4 linked regions of the Homo sapiens genome follow. The protein of the gene in region 1 interacts with the protein of each later gene in a pairwise test. Each region holds a gene or a part of one and is shown in the gene's direction. Other genes may lie near its edges. The genes, in order: L3MBTL3, TRAF3IP3, C1QTNF4 and PLOD3.

Region 1 (7,025 bases):
TCAGCTGATGACTTTATTTTGAATGTTAAGAAAACTGCTAAGTTGAAATGTGTTTAAAACTTTGAAGAAATGGAAAAGACCTTTAGTTGAGATTTGTCTTTTATATGAGCTGTTCATTTTACTGTCTGATAAGTGTAAGGCAATTTTATATAGTTTCTTAGCTGTATAGTTATGTATAGTCCGAGTAAGTAGTCCCTTTTGGTTCTAAGACTGTAATTTTGTTTCACTGAGTACGAAATTATTTCTGAATACTTGTATAATTTGTGATTTAAAGTCCTTAAATACATGGGCAAAAATTTTATGTAATATCTATTCTTTTTCCAGTGTGTTTTCTGTAAAATATCTTTAATTTTAAAGATAAAAGCAGTGAGGGAAATTAAAGTTGACTCAAATGATCCTTGTAACTTTCACCTGCCTGTCATATACAACAGGAGAGACGTTATTGGGTGAATTTAGGACATGGGAATGATACGAATGATTAAAATCCATTTCAACTCATCTAGAACCAGCTTATTTTATTTTAATTTACCGAGTGGCATGGTGTAAAATTATGCCTAAGTGATTCAGAATGTAAGCTTCTTAACTGGGGATGGTGGATTTGAAGGTTTCTTTTTGATGACAGTGTTTTGATTTTACCTTCCCTCTCTTTAAACCAATGCTAGAACCCTTAGGAGAAATCTTGAGAGTGGACAGCAATTGTGAAGATCGCCAGAGAGTTCTGTGTTTCATCACCGCCGAAAGGTAAGACCCACTTGTTGAAATAAATTGCTTGACATACCTGCAAATGTTAAAAAGCTGCATTTGGAGATCAGGAAGGAGAGTATGAGACTGGGTTGGCAGAAAAACATCATTTTGTGGGGCTGCTTTGAATGCATGAATGTATTGACACTAAATGTAATTGTAGTTTGGATGAAACATTAGGAAGTTAGGAGATTGTCCTGGATAATCTTTGTATTGCCTTACTTACTAGATTCTTAATTAGCATTTTAGCACCTGTTTTCTACTGAAAGTAAATGTTTTATTCTTTGGAGTTGAAAAAGTGGAAAAACTGGAATAAAATGATTGTAAATTAATATAAGTGTTACATTGTTATACAGTGATATGGAAGATTCTGGAACTCTAAATGTCTTGGGGGGCCAGTGGTAAAATTTTGTGAATGAAATTTACATTGGGTGCTTTGGGGGTATTTGTCACATAACTTCTATGGCTTAAATCCAAGATGGGCTGACTTGTGCCAAGTGCCATGTTGCAGGGTTATGAGTGAGTTTCAGTGTGTTAGCTTAGACTTGTCAACTTTTGAACATACTTCCACAGGGAATACAGCTGTTGTCTACTAAGATCTCTTTAGTAATTTTGGAGGGTGTTGGCTTCTTTCCAATACTCCAGGTCCTTCTTTTAGGGCAAAGGTCATTCTCAGGCAGAGGGGACAGCCATCTCTGAAGGTAGAACATTTCAGTACATTTTTGCTACTCCAGTGCTTTCTACTGTTTATACCTTTTTTTTTCTTCCTTTAATCTTCCCCTCTCCTTTTCTGCCTGTTTTCCTGCCCTCTCTGTCTTGAGTAATAAAGGGGTCGCTAAATCTTGTTTGGCAAAAACAAAAGAAAACCAAAATTAGCCTACCTTTTTAGAGCAGAACTAACAACCTTCATTGGGCCAGGTGTAATCTAGAAATCAAAATGACTAATTATTGATATAAAAATGATTAACAGGAGTTTATTGTCATTTGCTGCTTGTGGATCATTTTGAATTGTATAATTAGCAAAATAAGTAGATCTGGTCCATGTGGATATGCAGCAGAGACAATGGGGCAAGAACAGCTATAGGAAGGTCCTGCAGACAACTAGGGTTCAAGAAGAGTAAAATCAGTTTCCTAAGATGGTGAATTTCATGTTTAAATGTGCTGAGTTGAAGACACTGCTTATTTTTCTTTGTCTGCGGAGTCACTGTGTCTGTGGATAGAATGCTAGAATAGGAATCAGAAGACTAAATGTAATAACTAGATATATCACCTTGTATATGTCACTCTACCTCCTTCAGCCTCCATTTCCTCATCTACAGAGCGGGAACAGCAATACTTGCCTTGCATCTTTTGTTAAAAGAATCAAATAAAATCAGATTTTGAGAACCATAAAGAGTTATTCAGATGTATAGTGGTCATATCATTTTACCTTCGTCCAGCTTTATGAAGGGCTGGAGGTAGATTGTCTAAGTCAGAATATAGTGATTTAACACTTGGCTAAAACTTTTAGATTGGTTTCTGATGTGTGTATTGTATGGACTTCTCGGAATATTTCTAGGAGTATATCTTGTCTTGAGAAAAAAGTAGTTTCCCTTGTATACTATTGGCTCTTTGAGGGAAGAGACCATGCTCTAACATGGTGCGGAATACAAAACCGGAAATTTATTTATCCCAAACTAGTCATTTAATAAGTAGAAGGAGTAAATGAAAGAAATACTTTAAAATGATGCCTAATTGTGAAAATGGTAGGGTGATGAAAGTAGAAGGGTTGGTGTGAGGGGAATTAATGTACTGTAATTAATATTTTAGTTGCATGAGTCTGCTGGGAGATGAGGATGAGAAAATAGGTAACTGGAGTAGTAATGATTTAAACTAACTATAGGGGCCAGAACATGAGTCCTCCGAATGACTGAATTTAGGAAATGTCCAAGTAGGGCTTTTCCTCCTTGTTTTCTAGACCTCTTTGGCTGCAATCTAATTATAGCCAACTATGTAAAATCTAGATTAAAAAAATTGTAAGTACTATCTATTATTATTTTTGATTTGATGCTACTGAACCTGACAAAATAAACCCTGACAGGTTTTAGTTTTACTTCATCTCCACTCTTTGGAGATTATCCAATCAATGTTCTAAGAATCCAAAAACCCAATAGGAGTGGAAAAAAGAAGTATATGTCCTGTTTAATTAGTCCCTGAGTAATTGAGAGTTGATTCTTAAAGAATTTTGACTGGGTTGGTAGTTTATTTTTAAGAATTCCATATTTCAGCCAATGCTGTTTATAGTAGTGCAGTTAGGATGGGGAATTTATGAGAGAACTTACTTTATGTGGTGGGTGGGATGTACCGTTGGCATCCCAAGGATGGATAACTTGAGTGATCCCTGCGGTATTGTTTCTACTAGTTACTTAACCAGTTTTTTTCTGAGCTCTTATGGTGTTGAACACTTAAAAGACGAGATCCTTGCTCTTGAGGAGTTCTAGAGATCCTTACTCTGGGACTAGACATAATGAGCTCTTCTAATAATAGTATAACAGTTGCACATGGTACCATTAGGAAAGGATGAGGGCTCTAGCACTCTTTGGAGCTGTTGAACCAGGAAACATGGATTTCTGGGCTAACTGATGCAGGACCATGGCATATCATCCAATACACATGGCACAATATAATGCATTCCTTTTTTAGTGCTTCGCCTTCAGAAATGAGTAAGAAGCCCTTCACCCACAGTCAAGGAATGTCTAGCAAGAGTCTAGCAAGATGGATTGAGGCGATTCTTTCTTTGACCAGTGTGTTCACAAGGTAACTTTCTGGTGAAGATCTACACTATCTTCCACTGTTACCACTTGCCACTATTGAGGGATTTGTTCCTCACAAGGATTTGGGAATGCTTATAGTATAGGTAAAGATAGTGTCTTTAGAGAGAACTATTTATATGTTCATATGGGTGCACATTTATATGTGACATCTTGAAGTTCAGCGGATCCATGGAAGATATATTTTCTAAAGGGCTTCATTATCTAACAGGAATATTCTCAGATTATCTCTTTACTGTATTAAATTATTTCATTGGTGGTTGTGGATGTAAGTCAATAGTGGGAAATGATGAACGGATTTGTATTGACTGTGGCAGCTATGCAGTGGGTGGATGAAAAGAAGCACCAAGAAAGGGTATCCTTGATATATAACTAAGCTTGATTTATGAAGTAAAATTGGGAAAGACCTTTAGAAAATTCCCATTTGGGAGACAAGATAGTTTGGAGGAATGAACAAGGATCTTTGAGAGGAACTTGAGTAAAGTTAAGTTGGGTGATCTTGGATGAGGGAACTTTCCTCATAAACTGTAGTTTCTTTCTGAGTAGACTTGGAATTGATTAGTTGGATGGTGATTATAAGAATGATATGTATATTATATGTAACAGTAAAATGCCTTCTGCATTATTATTCTTTCTCCCATATATACTGTAAATCATTGTTTTGTGTTCCACCAACAGATACTTATTGAACCTCTATTTTGTCTAAATTACTGTTGTGAACTGCTTCACAAAATCAACAATTACAGCAGGGTTGAATGAATGTATGTGTTGGGGCTACAAAGACATCGAGCATCAATCCTTGGGCTCAGTATATTCCTAATCTAGTTGGGGAGATAACCCATACACATACGATGGCAATTAACAAAACAAAGCCATGGTTAAGTGTGGGTGAATGGTAGATAAATGCTGTAGACACTGTGATGGCATCTCTGGATGTGGTGGTAAATGTGTTCCTGTGATAGGACCCGGCAGATGGGGTTGCTCTTTTAAAAACCCTATGAAGTGTTGATATACAATGTTAAGTGCAATTGTATATCGAGTGCCTTCTGAAGATCAAGCATTAAGCTAGATGCTTTATATTTATTTATTCATCCAAAAAATACTTTGAGTGCTTTCTGTATGCCCAGGTACTGTTCTAGGCACTGACTATTACCTCTCATACTTTCACTAACCTTGAGCACTGGGTATTATTTTTTGTCTTTTAGAGCAAACTGGTGCTCAGAGTTACTTAGTAACTTGTTCATATCATGCAGTTTGAAAGGGGTGGAATCAGGGAAAATGATACTGGCATATGATTGATGTGTCTTTAGGTTTTTGATTTTCAAAATAGTAACACATAGAATATTTTAAAAACAACACATTTCCAGATTAAGGTATGTGCTCTTTTACATTGGTTTACTAAGATGAGCAATAATGAACAGGTATAAGAAAAATAGATGGGAAGAAAAACTGGCTTTACTTTCTTCTTTTTTTTTTCTTTTTAAAACCAAGAATTGAGAAAAGACCAATTATTGAATTATTCTGAAAAGAACACCTTGGTCTAGCCCATGGCCTTGAAATGATCACAAACTGTTGATAAAACATTACTCAGAATAGGCTTGGGAATCACTGGGCTTACTTATATAAAGATTTCATTTGTTCTCTATAGGAAGAGACCCAATAAGGTAGTAGGACTAGTTATGAAAAATATATATATAAAGCATCAATCAATGAAAGAATGGGACCTGCATCTACCAAGGCAGGCTCAGTAGGTTATGAAATTTACTCTAAAGCCAGGATTGTAAAAGGAAAGAAGAAAATTAAGAGAGACAATGGTGGGGAGAAAATGGAGGGGTGGTGTGGTAGAAATGTGTCCTAGAATCAAAGTAAAAGATGAAAACAGGGAATATGACTAAGATCCTGAGCAAGAGTGCTATAATTACTGGTGTTATACACTGTAACCAAAAGAGTATGTCCCATGTTTGCAAAATGAGGTGAAGAGTCTATTTTGACTCATCGGGTGGTTTTGTATTGCAATGGGAATTATATCTCTCTGTTATATGAGTTACGGTGGATCAGGCAGTTCTTCAGTTTGACTTAGAAGGATGCCATTGTAGGCATTGATTACAAGGTAATGGGCTGTTTCTCCTTTGTTGAAGTTCTATTTAAAACATTTTTTGAGCGTATACTATGTACCAGACCTTTTAAAGGCTGGACCATAGCTTTATATTACATAAATTTTGTGGAATTAAGCTAATTTAGTTACTAGAACATTTTGGGTATGATTGCTTAGGTACCAAAATCAGTTGATTATTTTTCTCCATCCATTACACTGTTGAACCCTGAATAGTGAATTGAAATTCCTAGGTGGTCAATCTGGTCTGGTTGTTAAATGATCTTAGTAATTCACCGTATTGGTTTGTGGTCTAATTGGGTGGACTTGAGGCTTAGCTGTTCAGTCTATTGATAAGGAGGTTGGCTACAAATGGTTATCAAGATAAGCCTGTAGACTTCTGTGAAAGAAAAATCTAGCCAAATCTAATTCATTACATGCAAAAGAGAAATCAAGTGTAAATCTTAGCTTTATGTTCTATAAAAATATGAAGCAAAATAAGAAAAAAGATACTACTTTTAGCATTAAAAATTATGAAGTAAAATAAAAAAGAACAAGAGAGTACTTTTAGTTTTTCTTTTAAAATTTTAGTTCATGCATATTTAGCATATGCATAGAAATATCTGTGTCAGGTTCTTGTTCTTTTTATGGCCCTTGAATCCCTCTAATGGGTGTAAAATTTCTATTATTACCCTTCTAGTATAGTATGTTGATGATATGCTAGCACTTTAAAAAATATGTCTGACTCAAATTGAGGTATAGTCTGCACGTTGAACATGAATTTAAAATAAAAGCATTTAATGAGAGTCTATTAAATATGCCATAGGCCCATTAATGTCAGTTTGTGATTTCACTTTCTGTGTACCTTTTTTTTTTTTTTTCTTGAAAGGCATTTTTCATTTTCTGTTCCTTCTTTAGAGGAAGTAAGTAGGTTAGGCCACAGAATCTCAAATAATTCATCCTTCTTACAGTAACACAGAAGGGCAGGAAGTTGAGATTTTGTAAAGGTTACCTTTGGTGACTACCCTTTCTTTGCACATGATCTCCATGGCAGACAAGGTAGCAAATCAGAGAGACCATTGCAACATTATAAATAGGATCATTCACATTAAAATATGACTAGCTGATAAAGGGACAGTGTTTTTGAGAAAATATCAATAAGATGGAACCGCTGTAATGACTGATTTCATGTTTAAAGGCAGCATGGATTAGTTCACACTCAGGTGTCTCCTCTGCAGGGATGGATGAGAACAGAAGACCCAACTTCTCAAGGATTTGTTCTTGATGCTGCTAAGATTTCAGTTCTCACATTGAAATAATGATCTAGAGTTTTTCCTGCCTAAAATCTATGAACTTAGGTCCTTAGGACAGATTTCACATCT
Region 2 (7,025 bases), on another chromosome or scaffold:
CTGAAGGATACTTCCATCTCAGGAATCTAGAATTAAATGAGAAGAATGTTTTTGAACCTCAATCTTACTTTCGAGAAACACCACCAGATAGAGAATAACACACCCATTCCTACTTACCCATTTCTGGCTTGGCCATTTACACTTTAGTCTCTAATTCACTAGATCACTGTCTCCATCCTTCTTCCTCTCCCTTTCTCCCAGTATCCTTCTCTTTGCACCCTGGAGGAATCCCAGCACTAACCAGTTTGTCAGCTCCAGGGGAACCTTGAGAATACCTGACACTGTAGGGGAAGGCCCTTGGTAAAGACTCACATCACCCAGACAGCCCTTTACGCATCCTAATCTTTGAACAGATGAGTTAGATGTTATAATGAAGTCTTACAAAATTATTTTCATTCCATGGGTAACTTTTTTCTGTTTTTTCTAGCAACCCCTGGAAGAATGTAAAAGCTCTTTTACTTGGCTCTTCTGTAACACCATTTTCCAGCATTAGTAATCTCTTGATTGGCCTAATCTTGGTTTATAAGAGATAGAAAGAAATCAGCTTTCACATTTGAGAAGTGATGGATACCTGACAGGTGGGAAGATATCAAATCAGAGAATGGGGTGAAACAGGCAGAATTCTCCCATCTGGAGTTAGAGAGAGAAGACAGTCCTGGCCACATTGATGGCGTCTTACAGGGGAAGAGAGTTTATGGAGTCTATAAGTTTCTTGGTCCACAACTTTCATTTTTTCAGTATAACTTGCTTTGTCAGGACTAAATAATGCCAACCAAGTTCACAGGAGACTAATATATAATCCAGAATGCCAGTCTATTCATTTTCAATAGGGAATAACACATAACCAGTGCCCAGCATGGATGGTCATTGGATGTCCAATAACTGGGACATCCCCTACATATGACCTCAACCAGGTTAATTCCTGGATCTGGTTTTTAATGAAAGTTCCAAAACTATAAGACCCACTCAAATTTAAATCCAAAATTTCAGACAATTCCAAAGCTAAATGGAAATGATTTCATATTGATCCCTAAATTGTTGTCATCTGGTCTACTGCTTACACAGTAGGTAATCCAGAATTGACAATAAAATCTGCCTGCCTTCTCCGAAATCACAGGGCATAAAGATGAAAGAAAGGGAGAAGGCAAGACCCCCAGTGAATTTGCAAAGCTGCGCTTGTGTCTCCTTAATCCTGCAGCCAGGAGGAATTTTATAATGCAAATGTATTAATTTTAAAACATGAAGTTCATTAGGCATTGTAAAGAAGCTACAATGATTTTTTTTTAAAGCAGCAGCAGTATGCTCCCTCCCTGAAGGAGTTTACAATCCAGTATGAAAGACAGATGAGTCAATAGAGTAGAATAATAGAGGCATGCAGGGGATACTATGTGAACACCATGAACCCTAAGAAAAGCTACCTAATCCATAAGACATTGTGGGATGGGGGTAGTTGGTCAATTTATCAGAACTGATGATACTGGACTGAATCTTGAGTATTAGTAGAAGTTAACTGGCTGTAGGCAGAAGAAGCTACATGGGTAAAGGCAGAGCCCCAAAAAACAGAGTGCTGGGGGATCTGCAAACATCTCAGCTTAGGTGGAAGTAGCATGGGATGAAAGTCTAGGCGTGTAAGAGGAGCCATGACAAGGAGTTTGGATGTGATTCTTAGTATGCTGAGAATCCATGGAGAGATTTATACAGGAAGTGGCAAGATCAGATTTGCATTTTAGAAAGAACCCTCTAAATGCAGAACTGAAAAGGGACTGAAGGGAGGCAAGATTTGAAGAAAGGGAGGCTGTTGCATTAATCCACATAACACTACTACTAGAGCCTGAACTAAGGAAGCAGCAGTAGGGATAGAGAGGAGACAGATATGAGCTGTTAAGGAAATTGTCAAGGCTCAATGACCAACTGATTAGAGGGGGAGGAAGTGAGAGAGAAAATGAAGATTGACTCCCTGGTTTAGGGTTTGGAAAAGCCTGGATGGATGATGATTCTGGTCACTGAGATAGGAACCCCAAGAAAAAAGAACATGTTTAGAAAGATGAGTCCTGTTTAGACATCTTGGATTCCAAGAGCTTGCAGAAGGCCTCAGATATAATGCCCAGGAAGCCTAGGGCACTGTTTATTATGCCCTCCACTCATCTCTCATTGCCTGAGGGACTCTTCTTGCTAGCTCTACCCTAAAAGAAATGGCTCACTAGATTACTGGTATCTCTGCCTGGGGGAAGAACCAACTTCTTTTCATTTCTGTATCCCAGCTCAGGATTTGGCACACAGAAGCTCAATGTGTATTTGTTGAATTGCATCAAATTTACAGAAATACTCCCCTTGGGGAATGAAAAAAGTACTACTGGAGATGGAAGACCAGAAAAACAGCTATGAGCAGAAGGCCAAGGAGTCACTGCAGAAAGTGCTGGAGGAGAAAATGAATGCAGAGCAGCAACTACAGAGCACACAGGTATGGGGATGCCACATAGACATGGGGCTGGGGACTCCAGGCAGCTTGGGGAACAAGGGGAGCCAGCTGCACAACTCCCTGGAGCCCTCTCCTCTCTGATCTCCCTCAGCGATCCCTGGCCCTGGCAGAGCAGAAGTGTGAAGAGTGGAGGAGCCAGTATGAGGCTCTGAAGGAGGACTGGAGGACCCTTGGGACCCAGCACAGGGAGCTGGAGAGCCAACTCCACGTGCTTCAGTCCAAACTGCAGGTACCAGGCACTGGGGGTGGGGAGGGAAGACAGGGTATGGGGAGGAGGGATGGTGATGAAAGAAGCTGTTCTGGATTAGGGACTCCAAAGGCAGCTGACAGCATCTGGCTTTCAGTTCCTCAGTCACCACTACTTTGTACCAAATTCACTGTTTTGGCTCTGAAATCTAATTTTGAGTTTAGCAAGGATGTCTGCATTGCTCATGCAAATGAACTAAGCGTTCATTGGAATGACACCATCACCACCCAAATGAAAAGAACTGGCTGGAATATTCATCAGCCTACTAATGTCATCTCCCAACCCACTCTCCAAACTCCATCCCAAAAAAGCATCCAGTTCAGAATTGCCCACTGTTGGCAAAGAAAGAATGTCACTAATTTATTTACAGGTGAGTATTAACACTTTCTGCCAATGTGTATTTTAAGCAATTACATTTAGCAATTACAATTAGATTCTTGGCATCCTCAAGGGTTCCATCATCTTCAATCTGTCCTAAGCCTCAGTTTCCCCATCTCTAAAATGAGGATAATAGTACCTACATCATAAGGTGGTTCTGAGTATTAAGTAAGATGATCCATGTAAAGCACTTAGCACAATGCCTGGCACACAAAAACACTCAGTAAATATTAGCTATTATTTTGCATAGATTTATTTACCTGGTTTGGAATTTTGAGGATCCACCTCAAAAGCTGATCTTTGTAATTTTCCTGAAGCAGGGCTCAGAACAGCCCACTTGATAAGAGACAGAGTATGTGAGTCTTATCAAAGGAGTGAACCCAGCTGGTCACTCTGCGTGGTATCCACAGCTCAACCTTTGTTGTTTTCTTCTTCCCATCACCTATAAGGCAACTCCTATGAAGATTTTTGTGAGGGGTTTTTTAACTTTAAATCTTTGTGGAAAAAAAAAGACCCTAACCAAAAAAAAAACTGATACTGCCAGAAGTAGAAAAAAGAGAAAATGAAAACATCCAGAAAACTAATGACTTTGTATTCCTTAATTTGGTGATTTACCAAAGTGTCAAGACATGACTCCCACACCAATGACAACCACTTACATTTCCCCTAGAATGGCAGATTTTTTAACGTACTGGGTTTCCTAAAGCAATTCTTATTTTATATATTCTAATTTATGTACATGAATGTGTCACTTAGACCTGTCACTAGGGATGGTTTAGAAAATAAACTTACACTGCACATGCCTCAGTCCACTTCAAAACTACTGGCAAATGCCTGTAGTCCCAGCTACTCAGAAGGCTAAGATGGGAGGATTGCTTGAGCCCAAGAGGTCGAGGCTGCAATGTGCTATGATGGCACCACTGCACTCCAGTCTGGGTGACAAAGTGAGACCCCATCTCTAAAAATAAAAATAAATAAATAAAAGACGCGAGTTCCTTGTGAATATCAAAAGTCTAATCTGCTGTTATAAATATGAGGAACAAAGCAAAGGGAAGAAATAGGAAAAAAGAAAGACTTCTCTATTTTCTCATCTCCCTAACATTCCTTCTATCTCTAAAATTCCAGACTTTTCTACATTTTCCTCTTCCATGGTACCCGCCCCCCAACCTCCACCCCAACACTGACCTCCTTCTATATTGGCCCTTCCTCCTCCTTACAGGGAGCAGATAGCAGGGACTTACAGATGAACCAGGCCCTGCGATTTTTGGAAAATGAGCACCAGCAACTGCAGGCCAAGATTGAATGCCTGCAAGGGGACAGAGACCTGTGCAGCTTGGATACCCAGGACCTACAAGGTACTCTTCTCCTTGGAGGCCTTGAGTGCATGGCAGCCATGGCCAAGTGAGCTAAGAAAAAAGAAACTGAATTAAGAGAAAGGCTTCAGCCTTTTATTTGTTTGCTTGATTGGTTGATTGGCTTTATAATCTCATTTTACCTTGAGGGAGAGGCAGGACTGTTTTAATCATCCAAAATTGAAAATTAATTTCACTGTAGTAGATAGAGTATCTTGTTGTCTGAGCTCTCTTTTTTAGCCCATCCCTCTGGGCCAGATCACAGCTGCTCCCACATCAGTCACATATGTCAAGGCCACAGTCCTAATTTGAAAGGGAAAGGTCAGTTGAAACACAAGGCATAGAGAAAGTCTCTCAGTCACATCCTCTGTGTCCGCTGATAGAGAGGACTAGATAGTGTGTAAACACAAGCCTCAATGCAACCCAACATTGTTGATGCACAAAAACCTGAGGTACTTGGCTTCTGGTTTACCTCTTCAGAACTGGGACACGAAGATAGAGCAACTTCCAATAGACACACGTTAAAGACCATGACAAGACAGCATCTATTACTAATTTCCATCCTAAGTACTGAGTTCATTAAGTCTTGGGTTCCTTTATTTTGGCTTGCATTATTGCATTTTCAGATCAACTAAAAAGGTCAGAGGCAGAGAAACTCACCCTGGTGACCAGAGTACAGCAGTTGCAGGGTAAGTTCGCTTTCCAGATTCTGAAAGTCCACAGGGTTTTCCTGGGGTCCTGGCCCACAAAAGGCACCCAGAGTAGGGACTAAGGGCCCAGTCTTTGGCATATGCTCTAACTCTGTGCACTTTCAGACCCTCTTCTTGTAAAGTGAGGTCATTTACATAGCTCTCCATAAATTATGTGTTAGCCTCTGTTCTTTTTTTTCTACTGTTCTCCTTCCATGCCAATGACACCACTTACATTTCCCCTAGAACTGCAGATTTTTTTTAAATACTGGGTTTCCTAAAGCAGTTCTTATTTTATATATTCTAATTTATGTACATGAATGTGTCACATAGACCTGTCATTAGAGATGGTTTAGAAAATAAGCTTACACTATACGTGCCTCAATCCACTTCAAAACTACATATTGGGCCCAAAGAGGAAAAGGGACTTCTCAGAAGAAAAGCAGTTTCTGAAAAGCTGGAGAACCTGACTCAATTAATACAGCTGCTGGTTGCCCACCACTTTAACCTCTGACACCTGATAGAGAAGCTTCATGAAAGCAGCAATGATTATTAAGAGAGCAAAGCAACCACAGGGAAAAGGGAAAATCTTCAAGCAAAGACTTGAAGATAGAGACATGGTAGGGGGAGATATAAGGATGCTATATTCATAGCAAAGTACCACAGACTGGGTGCCTTGAAGAACAGAAATGTATTGTCTCACAGTTCTGGAGACTAGAAATCCAAGATGTCAGCAGGGTTGTTTCCTTCTGAGGGCGTTTAGGGAAAGATCTATCCCAGGGCTCTTTCCTTGGCTTTGTAGATGGCCGTCTTCTCTCTGTGTCTCTTCACATTGTCTTTCCCATGAACATATCTGTGTCCATATTTCCCCTTCTTATAAGGACACCAGTGATATTAGATTGGGGCCCACCTGAATGACCCCATTTTAACTTGATTATCTTTTAAAGAATCTATCTCCAAATAAGGTCATTATTTAAGGTACTGAGGGTTAGGACTTCAACATATATATTCTGGGGGACAAAATTCAACACACAGCAGATGGGAACATATTTAATAACCAAGGTTCTAAGCAAAGTTCTGAAAAGAAAACTTTTTGTAGTAAATATGCTAGCATAGACAAGTTCCTTGTGTTTTCCAACAGGTTTGCTTCAAAATCAATCCTTACAGCTTCAAGAACAGGAGAAACTCTTAACAAAGAAAGGTCAGCAAATTTATTACCACAAATTCTAAGATATTGCTCTTCTCTTACCTGCCTAGAGGCAGCGGGATGGACTACATGACCTCCTGGAGTCCCAGCCAGTTCTGGGAGTCTGTTAAGTCCGGGATGTGTGGGAGCTTTTTAAGGACTGATCATTGGCTCTGAGGACACTTCAACTAGTTAGCCTTCTATCTTGAGGTATATAAACTGTGAAAAAGGGTTTCTATTCTCTCTGAAAGCACATGTCTGTGTTGAACATTTCAATAAATTTATTTTGAACTCAGGATTTCATGTCAATTTTTACACACTTGATTTTCCAAATCACATCCAACTCCCCAGCCCCAAACCACATAGCAGTCCAGAGTCAACTCACTGTTAGCCCTAGAGAGTCTACTGTCCATGTTTCCTGAGAATTCACTGTGTATACAGAGGGGCAATAGCTCCTCACCTGTCCACTACACACGACCTTTTGTTTTCTCTTCACAATCATTGGGCATAATATAATAGATAAGGCAGAAATTTTTATGCTCACAGAGTATGGATAAGAACATGAAAGTCTATGGTGACACAAACTAACAACACAGCTATAACAACAATCCAAAACTTCTGACTCCTAGTCCATGCTCTTTTCACCAAGACTAAGACTGCAGGGTGGCTAAAAAACCATCTTTAACCATATGAA
Region 3 (6,986 bases), on another chromosome or scaffold:
GGCTCACACCTGTAATCCCAGCACTTTGGGGGGCCAAGATGGGTGGATCACGAGGTCAGGAGATCGAGACCATCCTGGCTAACACAGTGAAACCCCATCTCTACTAAAAATACAAAAAAAAAAATTAGCCGGGCGTGGTGGCGGGCGCCTGTAGTCCCAGCTACTCAGGAGGCTGAGGCAGCAGAATGGCGTGAACCCGGGAGGCGGAGCTTGCGGTGAGCCAAGATCGCGCCACCGCACTCCAGCCTGGGCGACTGAGCGAGACTCCGTCTCAAAAAAAAAAAAAAAAGCGCACAGATACCAGTGGGTTTTCACCATGGAGAACTTAACTCTGCTGGAGTCTCTCTGAGTCTGAAACATGACCTGGAATTGGGAATTGGAATGCTCCCATCGAGGGACCAGAAAGCTGGGGTATTTACCCCTAACTCTGGACCATTGGCTGATGGTTGCTCTGGGGGTATTAACTCTACAGCCCTTTGGGCCTGCCCCACACTAACTCCCATAGCTGAAAATGCCCTCAGGAGGGACACAGGAAGTAGGCGCCTGGTCAGGAACTGTCTGTGGGTGCCCTCCTGGTAGGCCTGGAGGTGTGGGTGGGCCACTGACAGCATCTACTACACTCAGTGAAAGGAACCTGCTATTAAAATTATTGTTGTTGGCTGGGCACCGTGGCTCACGCCTGTAATCCCAGCATTTTGGGAGGCCGAGGCAGGTGGATTACTTGAGGTCAGGAGTTCAAGACCAGCCTGGCCAACGCCATCTCTACTAAAAATACAAAAATTAGCCTGGTGTGGTGGCATACGCCTGTAATCCCAGCTACTCAGGAGGCTGAGGCAGGAGAATCACTTGAACCCAGGAGGCGGAGGTTGCAGTGAGCCGAGATCGCACCATTGCATTCCAGCTTGGGTGACAAGAGTGAAACTCCATTTCAAAAAATAAAAATAAATAAAAATTATTGTTGTTTATTAGCTGCCACGTGGTGGCAGGCTGACGGGGGAGGATCACTTAAGCCCAGGCTGCAATGAGCCAAGATCGTGCCACTGCACTCCAGCCTGGGTGACAGAGTAAGAACCTATCTCAGCCAGGCGCAGTGGCTCACTCCTGAAATCCCAGCATTTTGGGAGGCTGAGGCGGGCGGATCACCTGAGGTCAGGAGTTTGAGAACAGCCTGACCAACATGCAGAAACTCCATCTCTACTAAGAATACAAAATTAGCCAGGGTGGTGGTGCATACCTGTAATCCCAGCTACTCAGGAGGCTGAGGCAGGAGAATCACTTGAACCTGGGAGCGGGAGGTTGCGGTGAGCCAAGATTGCTCCATTGCACGCCAGCCTGGGCAACAAGAGCAAAACTCCATCTCAAGAAAAGAAAAAAGAACCCGTCTCAATTTATATATATTTTAATGTTAATTTTTTTAACTTTTTTTTTAAGTGATGGGGACAGCTGGGCGCGGTGGCTCACGCCTGTAATCCCAGCACTTTGAGAGGCCAAGGCGGGCGGATCACGAGGTCAGGAGTTCCAAGACCAGCCTGACCAACATGGTGAAACCCCGTCTCTACTAAAAATACAAAATATTAGTCGGACATGGTGGCGCGCTCCTGTAATCCCAGGTACTCAGGAGGCTGAGGCAGGAGAATCGCTTGAACCCGGGAGGCGGAGGTTGCAGTGAGCCAAGATCGCAGCATTGCACTCCAGCCTGGGCAACAGAGCGAGAGTCTGTCTCAGAAAAAAAAAAAAAAAAGAGAGAGAGAGATGGGGTCTCACTCTGTTGCCCAGAGTGGTCTCAAACTTCTGAGCTCAAGCGATCTTCCCACCTTGGCCTCCCAAAGTGCTAATATCATAGGCGTAAGCCACCATGCCCAGCCATACCCGTCTCAATTAAAAAATAAATAAAATAATTGTTGTTTAAGACCAGCCTGGGCAACAGAGTGAGACCTCGTCTCTACAAAAAATTTTAAAAAAAATTAGCCAGGCATGGTGACCTGCACCTGTAGTCCCAGCTACCTGGGAGGCTGAGGTGGGAGAATCACTTGAGCCCGCAAGGTCAAAGCTGCAGTGAGCCAAGATCATACCATTGCACTCCAGCCCAGGTGACACAGCAAGACCCTCTCTCAAAAATAAATAAAATTGTGGCTGCAAAACAAGAGAGGAGGGAGCAGGGACTATAACCAGCCTAGGGCTTTTCTCTGGATCCTGCTGCCACCTCTTCTTAACTCCCATTCTGGAGCCCACCCATCTGCCTTACACCCACCAGCTCATGGCATCATCTTTCTCTATATCCCTTTCCCAGTGGCTTCCTCCCTATCCCAGTCCCCTGATGCAAATCCTGATGTCATCTGCCCCAGCCACCCATCTCTACCTCAACCCTCACTTCTCTGGTGAGAACTCTTGTGGATCCAGGGAGTGTCAAATCCCAGCCTGAACCAAACCTCAACTGAGATTATATTATCCTATAATATACCTTCTCCCCTCCCCTCCCCTCCCACCATTGGAATCACCCTCAGGAGAGCAGCTCCACTCTTCTCATCCAGAAGGGGCCCATGGCCCTAAGAAGGGCCATAGATTGCCATAGGTTGGCTTTTGGCATCCCCCAGCTCTCCTTCGACATCCCTGTGTGGCTCATCCCACCCTTACCCTGCTTCTTGTCCTCCCCACAGTCCTGTGGCCCAAGCTTTTCAAGTTGGTGAAAGAGACAGTTGTGATCTGACAAGGGCTAGACAGGTGCTTCACCCTCTGTCACCAAATACCCTCATTATCCAGCCCAAAACACCTCCATTCATTCCTTTCTATTCTGGCACATATTCGTTAATTCATTCCATCATTCACCTAACACCCTTGAAGCAGAGCCAATCACCTCTACCAACATCTTCCTAGAGACAAATAGATTAACTGGGGTGGGGTAAACTTTGAGAGCTCCAAAAGGAAAGCTCCAGAGGACGGGGGTTCTGCAGGGGTCCAGGCCTCTCAGGGACCACAGAGCAGACCTGCAGCAGAGGCAGAATTAGAGCCCATGGCTCTGGAGTCAACCAGGGCCAGGCAGAGGGCACCAGCTCTTGGCTGCTGAAAGTAGAGCTCTTCAAAAGTCATCCACTCAGTCAGCATCTACTGAGTGCCAGGCAGTGTCGTCACCTCTACAGCCGTCAGGGGAGAGAACAGCAGCCTAGAGAAAGGGAGTCTGAGCCCCCATCCCACGGGCTCGAAGCCCAGAGTAGAGGCCAGCACTAGTGCCTCTGGTGAGTATTACCATGGGAAGACCGCTGTTCCCAGCCCGGGTGCCCTGCTGGACTCTTGCTAGCCTGGCCCCAGCGAGGCAGGGCATCAGTTTCCCTCTCCAGAGGCCTTTCTTCCCCACCTATTGCCCTCTCAATCCTGTCCCTTCTTGCAGGAGCAACCTTCCCAGCAGAAAATTCCATTCTGCCCCAAGGACTCTCCTCCTTACTGCCCCTCACCCCGGGGAACGCAGGCTGCCCCTCTGATGCCTGCAGACTCCCTTCTCCCTCTTTCCTAACCGACCGTGGGCATTTTCCAATTTGGAGGTGAGGAGGAAAAACTAGGTTATTTTCAGCTCTTCCTTTACTGGCAACATTGACCCATTTATCCTTCTCTTCCTTCAGACCTCTCCCCCAAGGCCACTTAGCTTGGACATCTGTCCCAGCCAAAATCTCACCTTCCACTGTCCTTGCAGCCCAAAGGCTAGTCCAGCCTCTGAGTCCAGCTCTAGCCCTCTCTCCCCACACTAGGAAGGAAGCTGGACTGTAGAGCGCTCTGGGCCACCCCGCGTTAGCTGCTGCCTCTGGCCTCAGTTTCCCCAACTGCTCAGATTAATGATGCCTGCTCTCTAGACCCAGAGGACGAAGCTCTAAGGAGGTCACAGATGAGGAAGGGTCCAGTGCTCGGCGCAGACTCCGTGCGGAGCCCCTAGGCCCCGCAGCTCGCCCCTCCCTCTCCCCTACTCCCCTCCTCTCCCCCTCCCGTCTCTCCCCCGCCTCTTCGCTCTCGCTCGGCTCCCTCTCTAGCTGACCTTCCCTTTCCCTCACGCCTCCCCACGCCCGGCCCCTGGCCCCAGCACCCTGTCCGCTGCCGCCTCAGAGCCGGGAAAAGCAGCCGGAGCCCCCGCCGCCCCTGCCGCAGCGCGGGCGGTCAGCGCGCAGCCCGGCACCCGCAGCCTGCAGCCTGCAGCCCGCAGCCCGCAGCCCGGAGCCAGATCGCGGGCTCAGACCGAACCCGACTCGACCGCCGCCCCCAGCCAGGTGAGGGCAGCTGAGGGGAGGCAGGGAGCCGAGGTTCCCCCTTTACTGGAAGCGAGGGCTGGGGAGGCGCGGGGAAATTGGGTCCTTTTTCCTTGAAAGGAGGACCTGGGAGCCTTTTCGTGAAACAGGCACAAGGGCTTTCATTCCAAAGGGATGGATGGATGGAGGGAAGGTCTCGGGGGAGAGGGATTGGTTTTTGTTTTTTAAAAATAAGGATTAATTGGCTTCTGTGAAAGTGGGACTTCTTGGAAGGATGAGGGGCTTTCAAGGTAGGTTGGGGAGGGGGCTCTGGCAGGGCTTGAGGGAAGGGTTAACTGGTGAGTGGCAGGGCAAGGGGGAACTCTGCGATCCCCTCAGCCTGACATCGCTGCACCTCCCGCCTTGGCTCCGGGGCTCTGGGTCTCTCCAGCTCTGTGTCCCAGTTTTTCTCTTTGAAGATGACTATTTTGAACCCCACCTGGACAGAGCCAGGAACAGCCATTTCCTTCCCTGGAGCTATGACACCCACCTGACACACCCTCCCACACCTCTGACCTGCTCAGGGAAGGGGGTTCAGGGAAGGACGAGGATCCAGGGATCTGGGAATTGGGCAGTGTGGGTGAAACGGAGGCTGGGTACTGGGTGCACAGGAAGACCCTTGGCACTGGTGGGGTGCACCAGCCTTGGTCAGGAGGTTGCTGGGCAGCTGCTTCTGGGGCAGGACCCACTAGGAAAGCAGCGGTATGGAAAAGCTGAGCTGTTTTCCGTGTTCCCAGAAGACAAAACACTAGAGAATGTGTTTGCTTGCTTTTGTTTGGTTTTGCTTTCTGTCTTCCTCACCCTGGATCCCAAGACTCATTCCTCTGATCTCCTCTCCTAGTTTTGCAAAAAGGTAAACTGAGGCACAGAACAAATTGGCTGGACATACCTGTGTCTAGGAGGGAAGAGTGACAGGAAGGCATACGGAATTTGAGTCAAAAAACCTCAGTGCTCCATGGGTGACCTTGGGCCAAAATGCTTTCCCTTGTTGGGCCTCAGCTTTCTCATCTATAAAATGGGAGACGGCCCACCTGTCTTGTAGGTTTGCCAAGACCATGTGTCTAAAAGAACTTTGTAAAAGGGAATGCACTGGACACTTGTGAGGTGCCATCTTCACCACTGTGGATGGCCCCTTCCCTCCTCCCTGTCCTAACCAAGGGACACCTAACTAATCCATAGGACACCTTTGTGAGAATTACAAAAAGCACCTCCTCTGGAAGGAGACAGCATTCAGTTGGCTAGCAACTTGGGGTCTTTAGTATGAGAATGAGAAGGTGGCATACTTTACGCCAGGTGCTGCTCTAACATGTGGAGTGTGAGCTAGATTCTAGCTGGGACGTTCTGCACATCTACACCTGACAACCCTTCTCAGCAGGTCCCTGCTGTCTCTAAGAGACACAGAGCTACACATACAGGGCATTTTCTAAAGCAGCCCACATCCCAGGCTGTCTCCAGCTCATTTCTTTCCTGTTTTGTTTCCACATCAGGGCTTTTGGGTATTCAAGCCCCAAAGCACGTGCCCTACTAGGAAGCAGGATGGAATCCCTACATCAGAGAGTGACTCCTTTGAGTTAAGCAGTGCCTTCACCAAGCTCTCAGGGGTAGGAGTGACTGAGTCCCTAAACCCTTACGTCAAGAACTGGACCAGATCACTTTTGTCAGGGCAACCGACAGAAGCATCTGCACACCTCAGCACTGCCGTTGACAAACCATGTTCACACCTATCTCAGCACACCCCCACAGCAAGCCTGTGTGTGAGGTCTCTTCCCCATTTACATGGAGGAAGCCATGCCCAGAGAAGTTAGGGAACCTGCCCAAGGTTTCACAGTGTGAGTGGTAGAGCCAGGACCTGAACCCAGATCTGGCTATCTGTCCTCTCCAATCCATCACTCCCAAGGAACAAAGCTGCTGACTTCACAGCCTTGCCAAAGCCCTGCTGGAATTGTTGCTGTCCCTGTCCATCCCCAGTAGCCCCTGGCTCGCCACTCCTTCTTCTGAGTAACCAGCCTCCAAGCAAAGAGAAAGGAGTCACCTTCTCTTTTACTCTGATTTCAAGGGGGAGGAAGCTACCTCAAAGCCCAACTGTTCTCGCCTCCTCTGTGCAGGAAGGGCCCCTGGTGAGGCCAGGAAAGGGGTCAGGGAGCAGCGATTTCCTTTCCTGCTCAGATGGGGCTTAAACAGTAACGGTCATGCAGAGCGTTGACACAGAGAGCCAGTGCCTGCGTGAGTGGCAGACCAAGGACCATAAAATAACCACAGGAAAATGCAGCCAACTGGAGCTGAGGGGAACTCAGAGACTCCCCTGAATCCCCCGGGTTACCAGGGCCCCTGAGTGTCAAATGGGAGGTGTAGGGGCAAGCCCAGCAGACAGGGCTGTAGGCCTCTTTAACCAGAGTGTTTCTGCTAGTCTGTGTTCAAGCTTTCACTTAAGAAAGGGGTTTCGGCCGGGCGCGGTGGCTCACGCCTGTAATCCCAGCACTTTGGGAGGCCGAGGCAGGCGGATCACAAGGTCAAGAGATCAAGACCATCCTGGCCAACATGGTGAAACCCTGTCTCTACTAAAAATACAAAAATTAGCTGGGTGTGCTGGGTGCAAGCCTGTAGTCCCAGCTACTTGGGAGGCTGAGGCGGGAGAATCGCTTGAACCTGGGAGGTGGAGGCTGCAGTGAGCCGAGATCAAGCCACTGCACTCCAGCCTGGCGACACAGCCAGACTCCG
Region 4 (7,025 bases), on another chromosome or scaffold:
AAGTGCTGGGATTACAGGCATGAGCCACTGTGCCCGGTCTACTTCTGTGATTCCATTTAACAAAGGGAAGGTCCCTGGTTATCCTTCTTGTACAGATGAGGAAAACAGCTTGTGGAGGGGTTGGTGACTTGCCTCAGGGGATGGGGAGAACGGGGAGAGAGAGAGGCCAGGCACGGTGCCTCACGCCTGTAATCCCAACATTTTGGGAGGCCCAGGCAGGAGGATCACTTGAGGTCAGGAGTTTGAGACCAGCCTGGCCAACATGGCGAAAACCCGTCTCTACTAAAAAAAAGTACAAAAATGAGCTGGGCGTGGTGGCGGGTGCCTGTAATCCCAGCTATTCAGAAGGCTGAGGCAGGAGAATCACTGGAACCCGGGAGGCAGAGCTTGCAGTGAGCCGAGATTGCGCCACTGCACTCCTGCCTGGGTGACAGAGTGAGATTCCTTCTCAAAAAAAAAAAAGGCCAGGTGCGACAGCTCACATCTGTAATCCCAGCACTTTGGAAGGCTGAGGCGGGCAGATCATGAAGTCAGAAGTTTGAGACCAGCCTGGCTGACATAGTGAAACCCAGTCTCTACTAAATATACAAAAATTAGGCTGGGTGTGGTGGCTCATGCTTGTAATCCTAGCACTTTGGGAGGCCGAGGCAGGTGGATCACCTGAGGTCAGGAGTTCAAGGCCAGCCTGGTCGACATGGTGAAACCCTGTCTCTACTAAAAACACAAAAATTAGCCGGGCATGGTGGTGCGCGCCTGTAATCCTGGCTACCCGGGAGGCTGAGGAAGGAGAATCGCTTGAACCCTGGAGGTGGAAGTTGCAATGAGCCAAGATCGTGCCACTGCACTCCAGCCTGCGTGTTGGGAGTGAGACTCCATCTCAGCATAAAAAACAAAAAATACAAATACAAAAATTAGCCAGGTGTAGTGGCATGTGCCCATAGTCTCAGCTACCTGAAAGGCTGAGGCAAGAGAATCTTTTGAACTCAGGAGGCAGAGGTTGCAGTGAGCCGAGACCACGCCATTGCACTCCAGCCTGGGTGACAGAGTGAGACTCCATCTCAAAAAATAAAAATAAAAAAAAAAAAAAACAAGGAGAGAGAGAATATGAGGAGGGGTAGGGATGCTGAGGCTCCTACTGGCCTCCCGCTCAGCTCACCCTCCCCTTCCTCGCCCAGCTGCGGTGTGATCACGCAGGTAGTAGGCAGTGGAGCTCTCTGGGCCAGCAGCCTGGTCAGAACCCAAAGGTTCCTGCCCACAACGAGCCACACTCCAGGATAGCCCTGGTGTCCCTTTATTCCCTGGAGAATTTGGGACCCCATATTTAGAAGAATGTGTTGCTTGGTAGCTCCCAGAGAAAGGGGGTCTGAAGCCTGGCCTTTTTCTTCCCCAGATGAAGTGGTTTTAAAGTTTGATCGGAACCGTGTGCGTATCCGGAACGTGGCCTACGACACGCTCCCCATTGTGGTCCATGGAAACGGTCCCACTAAGGTGCCACCAGTGGTCTCAACCCCCGCCCCGCCCTGCCCCAACCCCCAGGCACCTCCAACCCTTCTGAGAAGCTGGCCCTTCCCAGCCCCCATATCAGAGGTGCCTGACCCCCACCTCCACCCCTGGAGGCCTCAGCCACTCAGCCTCAGTCTGTCCCCAACAGCTGCAGCTCAACTACCTGGGAAACTACGTCCCCAATGGCTGGACTCCTGAGGGAGGCTGTGGCTTCTGCAACCAGGACCGGAGGACACTCCCGGGGGGGCAGGTGAGGTGGGGGTGCCAGGGAGGGGCACGAGAGGGCAGCGTGCTGAGCAGGAGGTACAAGGACAGCGGACTGGGGGGCGGTGGGGGCATCGCTCCTGGGTCCCTGCACCTGTCAGGGTGGAGGTTGGGTGGGGGCAGCAGGGAAGTCCGGGCTTCTCTCTGAGTCCCTGCGTGTTGCATCTTCCAGCCTCCCCCCCGGGTGTTTCTGGCCGTGTTTGTGGAACAGCCTACTCCGTTTCTGCCCCGCTTCCTGCAGCGGCTGCTACTCCTGGACTATCCCCCCGACAGGGTCACCCTTTTCCTGCACAACAACGTGAGACTCCCCTGTTGGAGCCTCTCCTGAGGGACCCTTTCCCTGCCCTGATCAGAACTCTCGTGCCCCCACCCCCATCTCCTTCCTGCACCCCCATCCCTCAGGTGCCGCCTCCCTGCCCTCTGAGCCCATCCCCCTATGTCTTCCCCTCCCAGGAGGTCTTCCATGAACCCCACATCGCTGACTCCTGGCCGCAGCTCCAGGACCACTTCTCAGCTGTGAAGCTCGTGGGGCCGGAGGAGGCTCTGAGCCCAGGCGAGGCCAGGGACATGGCCATGTGAGCGGGTGCTTGCGGGGAGGAGAGGGTGGGATGAGGCTGTAGGGTCAGGGGTGCTGCCACCTGCTGCCTGGCCCTTGCCTCACCTGTCACCCATCCAGCCCCTCCTGGGCCTCCCCATTCGCATCCTTGCAGCCCCCATGCTGTCACTCCTGCCCTTGCCAGCTCACCCAGACAGCAGAGAGCCTGGGGAAGGAAGGATAGACACTGCCTCCCTCCTCTTCTCCTGGGGGCATGGGCCAGTTACCCCATCCACACCGCCTCCCCACCTGCCGCCGTCTCAGCTCGCCTCTCACCTCCAGGGACCTGTGTCGGCAGGACCCCGAGTGTGAGTTCTACTTCAGCCTGGACGCCGACGCTGTCCTCACCAACCTGCAGACCCTGCGTATCCTCATTGAGGAGAACAGGTGGCTTACCCCCTCTCCCCGCAGCCGGAGGGCACCCCAACAGGCCCCGGGAACCCCACTCCTGCCCTGGGCACCGGGCTCCCCAGGCCTGCTCCCGTCTGCCCAGCCCTCACCCCCACCTGTCCGCAGGAAGGTGATCGCCCCCATGCTGTCCCGCCACGGCAAGCTGTGGTCCAACTTCTGGGGCGCCCTGAGCCCCGATGAGTACTACGCCCGCTCCGAGGACTACGTGGAGCTGGTGCAGCGGAAGCGAGTGTGAGTCCCGCCAGCCTGCAGCCCCCCGCCTCCTCCGACCCGGGGCCCAGGTAGACCCAAGCCCCCTACTCTCAGGGGTTTGGAGTGGTCACCAGTCAGAGGTGCCATGAGGCTGGCTGCAGTGGCTCACACTTTTGATGCCACCACTTTGGGAGGCTGAGGTAGGAGGACTGCTTGAGCCTGGGAGTTTAAGATCAGCCTGAGCAACGTAGCAAGAGCCTATCTCTACAAAAAACTTAAAATATTAGCTGGGCACGGTGGTGCGTGCCTGTGGTCCCAGCTACTACGGAGGCTGAGGTGGGAGAATCACTTGAACTTGGGAGGTTGAGGCTGCAGTGAGCCATGTTTCCACCACTGCACTCCAGCCTGGAAACAGAGGGAGACCCTTTCTCAAGAAAATAAAAAACAAGGGCCGGCCGCGGTGGCTGACGCCTGTAATCCCAGCACTTTGGAAGGCAGAGGCAGGTGGATTACTCGAGGTCAGGAGTTCGAGACCAGCCTGGCCAACATGGTGAAACCCCATCTCTACCAAAAATACAAAAATCAGCCGGGCATGGTGGCTGGCACCTCTAATCCCAGCTATTTGGGAGGCTAAGGTGGGAGAATTGCTTGAACCTGGGAGGTGGAGGTTGCAGTGAGCCAAGATCACACCACTGCATTCCAGCCTGGGTGACAGAGCAAGACTCCGTCTCAAAAACCAAAAACAAGAAACAAAAAAGAAGTGCCACAGCTTGGGGTAGGAACTGACCGCATTTTGGGAGGTGGGGTGGTTGGGACCAGCAGTGCTTGACAAGGGACATGCAGGGGCCTTATGTTCAGGGACTGGGATACCCTGAGGGAAGAAGGACTTCCCGGGATGAGCTGGGCAGAATTTGGGGGGCTGTCCTCCCAGCTGACCGCGGTGTCGGTGCCTCCAGGGGTGTGTGGAATGTACCATACATCTCCCAGGCCTATGTGATCCGGGGTGATACCCTGCGGATGGAGCTGCCCCAGAGGGATGTGTTCTCGGGCAGTGACACAGACCCGGACATGGCCTTCTGTAAGAGCTTTCGAGACAAGGTGAGCGCGGGTGCACGGTCTGGCCTGGGGGCAGTCCCCCAGACTCCAGGCATCGCCTGCATCACGGACACCCCCACCCCACTACAGGGCATCTTCCTCCATCTGAGCAATCAGCATGAATTTGGCCGGCTCCTGGCCACTTCCAGATACGACACGGAGCACCTGCACCCCGACCTCTGGCAGATCTTCGACAACCCCGTCGTGAGTGGGGACCCCACGCCCAGAGCACACAGGTTCCCCGCCTTGTGCTAAGGAAGACACCAAACGTGATGGCTGCTGCCAGCGCAGGACACTGAGTGGGAGGGGGCGGTCCCCTGGGGGCTGGGAGCGAGGGGGGCACAGATCTGATGTGCCCCCCACCCTCTCACAGGACTGGAAGGAGCAGTACATCCACGAGAACTACAGCCGGGCCCTGGAAGGGGAAGGAATCGTGGAGCAGGTGAGCCCACGCAGCCTCCCCACCCACCCCCTGCCCTCATGGCCATCGCCTCTTGGGGGCCCCCGCCTGGATTCAAAGTTTTCACACTGAGTTCCCCAGAGATCTGAGGGTTTTCTGTTCAGACAAGATGAAGGCAGAGGCCGAACAGAAAGGACTCTTGCCCCCAAAGCCAGCATTGATCAGACAGCCTCTTCTCCTGTATATTGGGTATACTGGTGTTATGCTTGAAATCACATCTTAAAAGAAGAATGGGGCTGGGCTCAGTGGCTCATGCCTGTAATCCCAGCACTTTGGGAGGCCAAGGTGGGTGGATCGGTTGAGGCCAGAAGTCCAAGACCAGCCTGGGCAACATAGCGAGAATCTGTCTCTACAACAACAACAAAAAAATTAAATAAGAAATGAGGCCAGGAGTGGTGCTCATGCTTGTAATCCCAGTACATTGAGAGGCCGAGGCAGGCAGATCACCTGAGGTCAGGAGTTCGAGACCAGCCTGGCCAACATGGCAAATCCTGTCTCTACCAAAAAAAAAAAAAAAAAAAACACAAAAATTAGTCAGGTGTGATGGCGTGCACCTGTAGTCCCAGCTACTCGGGAGGCTGAGGTGGGAGAATCGCTTGAACCTGGGAGGCAGAGGTTGCAGTGAGCCAAGATCACGCCACTGCACTCCACCTTGGGTGACACAGCGAGACCCTGTCTCAAAAAAAAAAGAAAAGAAAAAATTAGCTTGGCATGGTGGCATGTGCCTGTAGTTCCAGCTACTTGGGAGTCTGAGGCGGGAGGATCGCTTGAGCCCAGAAGGTCGAGGCTGTAGTGAGCTATGATTGTGCCACTGCACTCCAGCCTGGTTGACAGAGCAATACCCTATCTCAAAAAAAAAAAAAAGAGGTATGCACTGTTACGGAAGTTTGGAAACCACTGTCCCAGCACGAGGGGCTCCAGGACCCTCTGCCACCTCTCCTGTGCCAGAAACCGGTCCTCAGCCTTGCCACTCCCTCAGCCCCTACCTGGCGGGTCCCCGGCTGCTCTCACAAAGCCTTCCCTGCTCCTCCCTGCCCCTTCCCATTCTGCCTGCTGCCTGTCCCCTTCCCCGTTCTGCGGCGTCAGCTAGCCCTGTTCTCCCTCGCCCCATCCTCAGCCATGCCCGGACGTGTACTGGTTCCCACTGCTGTCAGAACAAATGTGTGATGAGCTGGTGGCAGAGATGGAGCACTACGGCCAGTGGTCAGGCGGCCGGCATGAGGTAAGGGCCTGGGCGAGGAGGGCAGAGGCCTTCCCAGAGGAGGAGGTGCAGGATCTGGTAAACAAACAATGGAATCAGGAAAATGGGAGCAAAGAGGGGTTCCCAGGGGGGAGGCAGACCCTGGGGTCACAACTGCATTCATTCATGTATTCAAGAAATATTTACTGCTGGGCACAGTGGCTCATGCCTGTAATCCTAGCACTTTGGGAGGCTGAGGCGGGAGGATTGCTCGAGCAGGGGGAGTTTGAGGCCAGCCTGGGCAACATAGCGAGACCCTGTCTCTACAAAAAATTTAAAAATTAGCCGAGTTTGGGCCAGGTGCGGTGGCTCACGCCTGTAATCCCAGCACTTTGGGAGGCCGAGGCAGGTGGATCACCTGGGGTCAGGAGTTCGAGACCAGCCTGACCAACATGGAGAAACCCCATCTCTACTAAAAACACAAAATTAGCCGGGCATGGTGGCGGGCGCCTGTAGTCCCAGCTACTCGGGAGCTGAGGTAGAATTGCTTGAACCCGGGAGGCAGAGGTTGCAGTGAGCCAAGATTGAACTCCAGGCTGGGCAACAAGAGTGAAACTCCATCTCAGAAAAACCAACAAATTAGCCGGGCATGGTGGCATGTCCCAGCTATTCAGGAGGCTGAGGCAGAAGGATCACTTGAGCCCCAGAGTTAGAGGCTGCAGTGAGCTATGATCATGCCGCAGTACTCCAGCCTGGGTGACAGAGCAAGACTCTGTCTCTAAAAAAAGAGAAAAGGAAATCATTCCTGGGCCACTGTCCTAGACTGCACTGCAGGAATGCCTCATGCCGGTCGAGCTCTGCCCTGCTGTGAGCAGCAGCCACCACACAGCTTCTAAGGCTGCGATGAGCAGCCTGGGTGCAATAGAAGCCACGGGGAAGCCTTGACCCAGACTTGGGAGGAGTAGGGAGCTTCACAGGACAGGTGACATCTTAGCTGAGACTTGAAGGGCCGGGAGCAGTGAGTCAGGCCGAGAAGTAGCAAAGAAGACTGTTCTGCACAGAGGAACACAGGTGTGAAGGCTGGAGGACGGGAGGAAGGAGGCTGGACTGCCCTGGGGTGGGGAGCGCCATGGCTGGAGGGGCGGGTGGCTCAGTGCCCGCCGCCCCCAGGATTCAAGGCTGGCTGGAGGCTACGAGAATGTGCCCACCGTGGACATCCACATGAAGCAGGTGGGGTACGAGGACCAGTGGCTGCAGCTGCTGCGGACGTATGTGGGCCCCATGACCGAGAGCCTGTTTCCCGGTTACCACACCAAGGTGCGCTG

The links.
Region 2: the proteins of L3MBTL3 (region 1) and TRAF3IP3 interact in binary tests that used the Homo sapiens proteins (3 or more experiments, as listed by UniProt).
Region 3: the proteins of L3MBTL3 (region 1) and C1QTNF4 interact in binary tests that used the Homo sapiens proteins (3 or more experiments, as listed by UniProt).
Region 4: the proteins of L3MBTL3 (region 1) and PLOD3 interact in binary tests that used the Homo sapiens proteins (3 or more experiments, as listed by UniProt).

The regions. Positions count from the first base shown.
Region 1 is NC_000006.12:130,021,565-130,028,589, forward strand, and holds part of L3MBTL3 (lethal(3)malignant brain tumor-like protein 3), read left to right. Parts: exon of another isoform or gene 1-570; intron 571-662; 5' UTR 663-741; intron 742-7,025. UniProt on the Homo sapiens protein: Is a negative regulator of Notch target genes expression, required for RBPJ-mediated transcriptional repression. It recruits KDM1A to Notch-responsive elements and promotes KDM1A-mediated H3K4me demethylation.
Region 2 is NC_000001.11:209,773,029-209,780,053, forward strand, and holds part of TRAF3IP3 (TRAF3-interacting JNK-activating modulator), read left to right. Parts: intron 1-2,261; coding exon of another isoform or gene 2,262-2,320; coding exon 2,321-2,461; intron 2,462-2,545; coding exon of another isoform or gene 2,546-2,560; exon of another isoform or gene 2,561-2,570; coding exon 2,571-2,708; coding exon of another isoform or gene 2,709-3,096; intron 3,097-4,323; coding exon 4,324-4,459; intron 4,460-5,082; coding exon 5,083-5,145; intron 5,146-6,179; exon of another isoform or gene 6,180-6,286; coding exon 6,287-6,346; coding exon of another isoform or gene 6,347-6,375; exon of another isoform or gene 6,376-6,402; coding exon of another isoform or gene 6,403-6,425; exon of another isoform or gene 6,426-7,025. UniProt on the Homo sapiens protein: Adapter protein that plays essential roles in both innate and adaptive immunity. Plays a crucial role in the regulation of thymocyte development.
Region 3 is NC_000011.10:47,591,412-47,598,397, reverse strand, and holds the start of C1QTNF4 (complement C1q tumor necrosis factor-related protein 4 precursor), read left to right. Parts: upstream 1-3,986; 5' UTR 3,987-4,250; intron 4,251-6,986. UniProt on the Homo sapiens protein: May be involved in the regulation of the inflammatory network. Its role as pro- or anti-inflammatory seems to be context dependent. Seems to have some role in regulating food intake and energy balance when administered in the brain.
Region 4 is NC_000007.14:101,207,570-101,214,594, reverse strand, and holds part of PLOD3 (multifunctional procollagen lysine hydroxylase and glycosyltransferase LH3 precursor), read left to right. Parts: intron 1-1,390; coding exon 1,391-1,488; intron 1,489-1,651; coding exon 1,652-1,753; intron 1,754-1,939; coding exon 1,940-2,065; intron 2,066-2,220; coding exon 2,221-2,342; intron 2,343-2,644; coding exon 2,645-2,749; intron 2,750-2,878; coding exon 2,879-3,004; intron 3,005-3,921; coding exon 3,922-4,063; intron 4,064-4,150; coding exon 4,151-4,264; intron 4,265-4,433; coding exon 4,434-4,502; intron 4,503-5,637; coding exon 5,638-5,742; intron 5,743-6,870; coding exon 6,871-7,017; intron 7,018-7,025. UniProt on the Homo sapiens protein: Multifunctional enzyme that catalyzes a series of essential post-translational modifications on Lys residues in procollagen. Plays a redundant role in catalyzing the formation of hydroxylysine residues in -Xaa-Lys-Gly- sequences in collagens.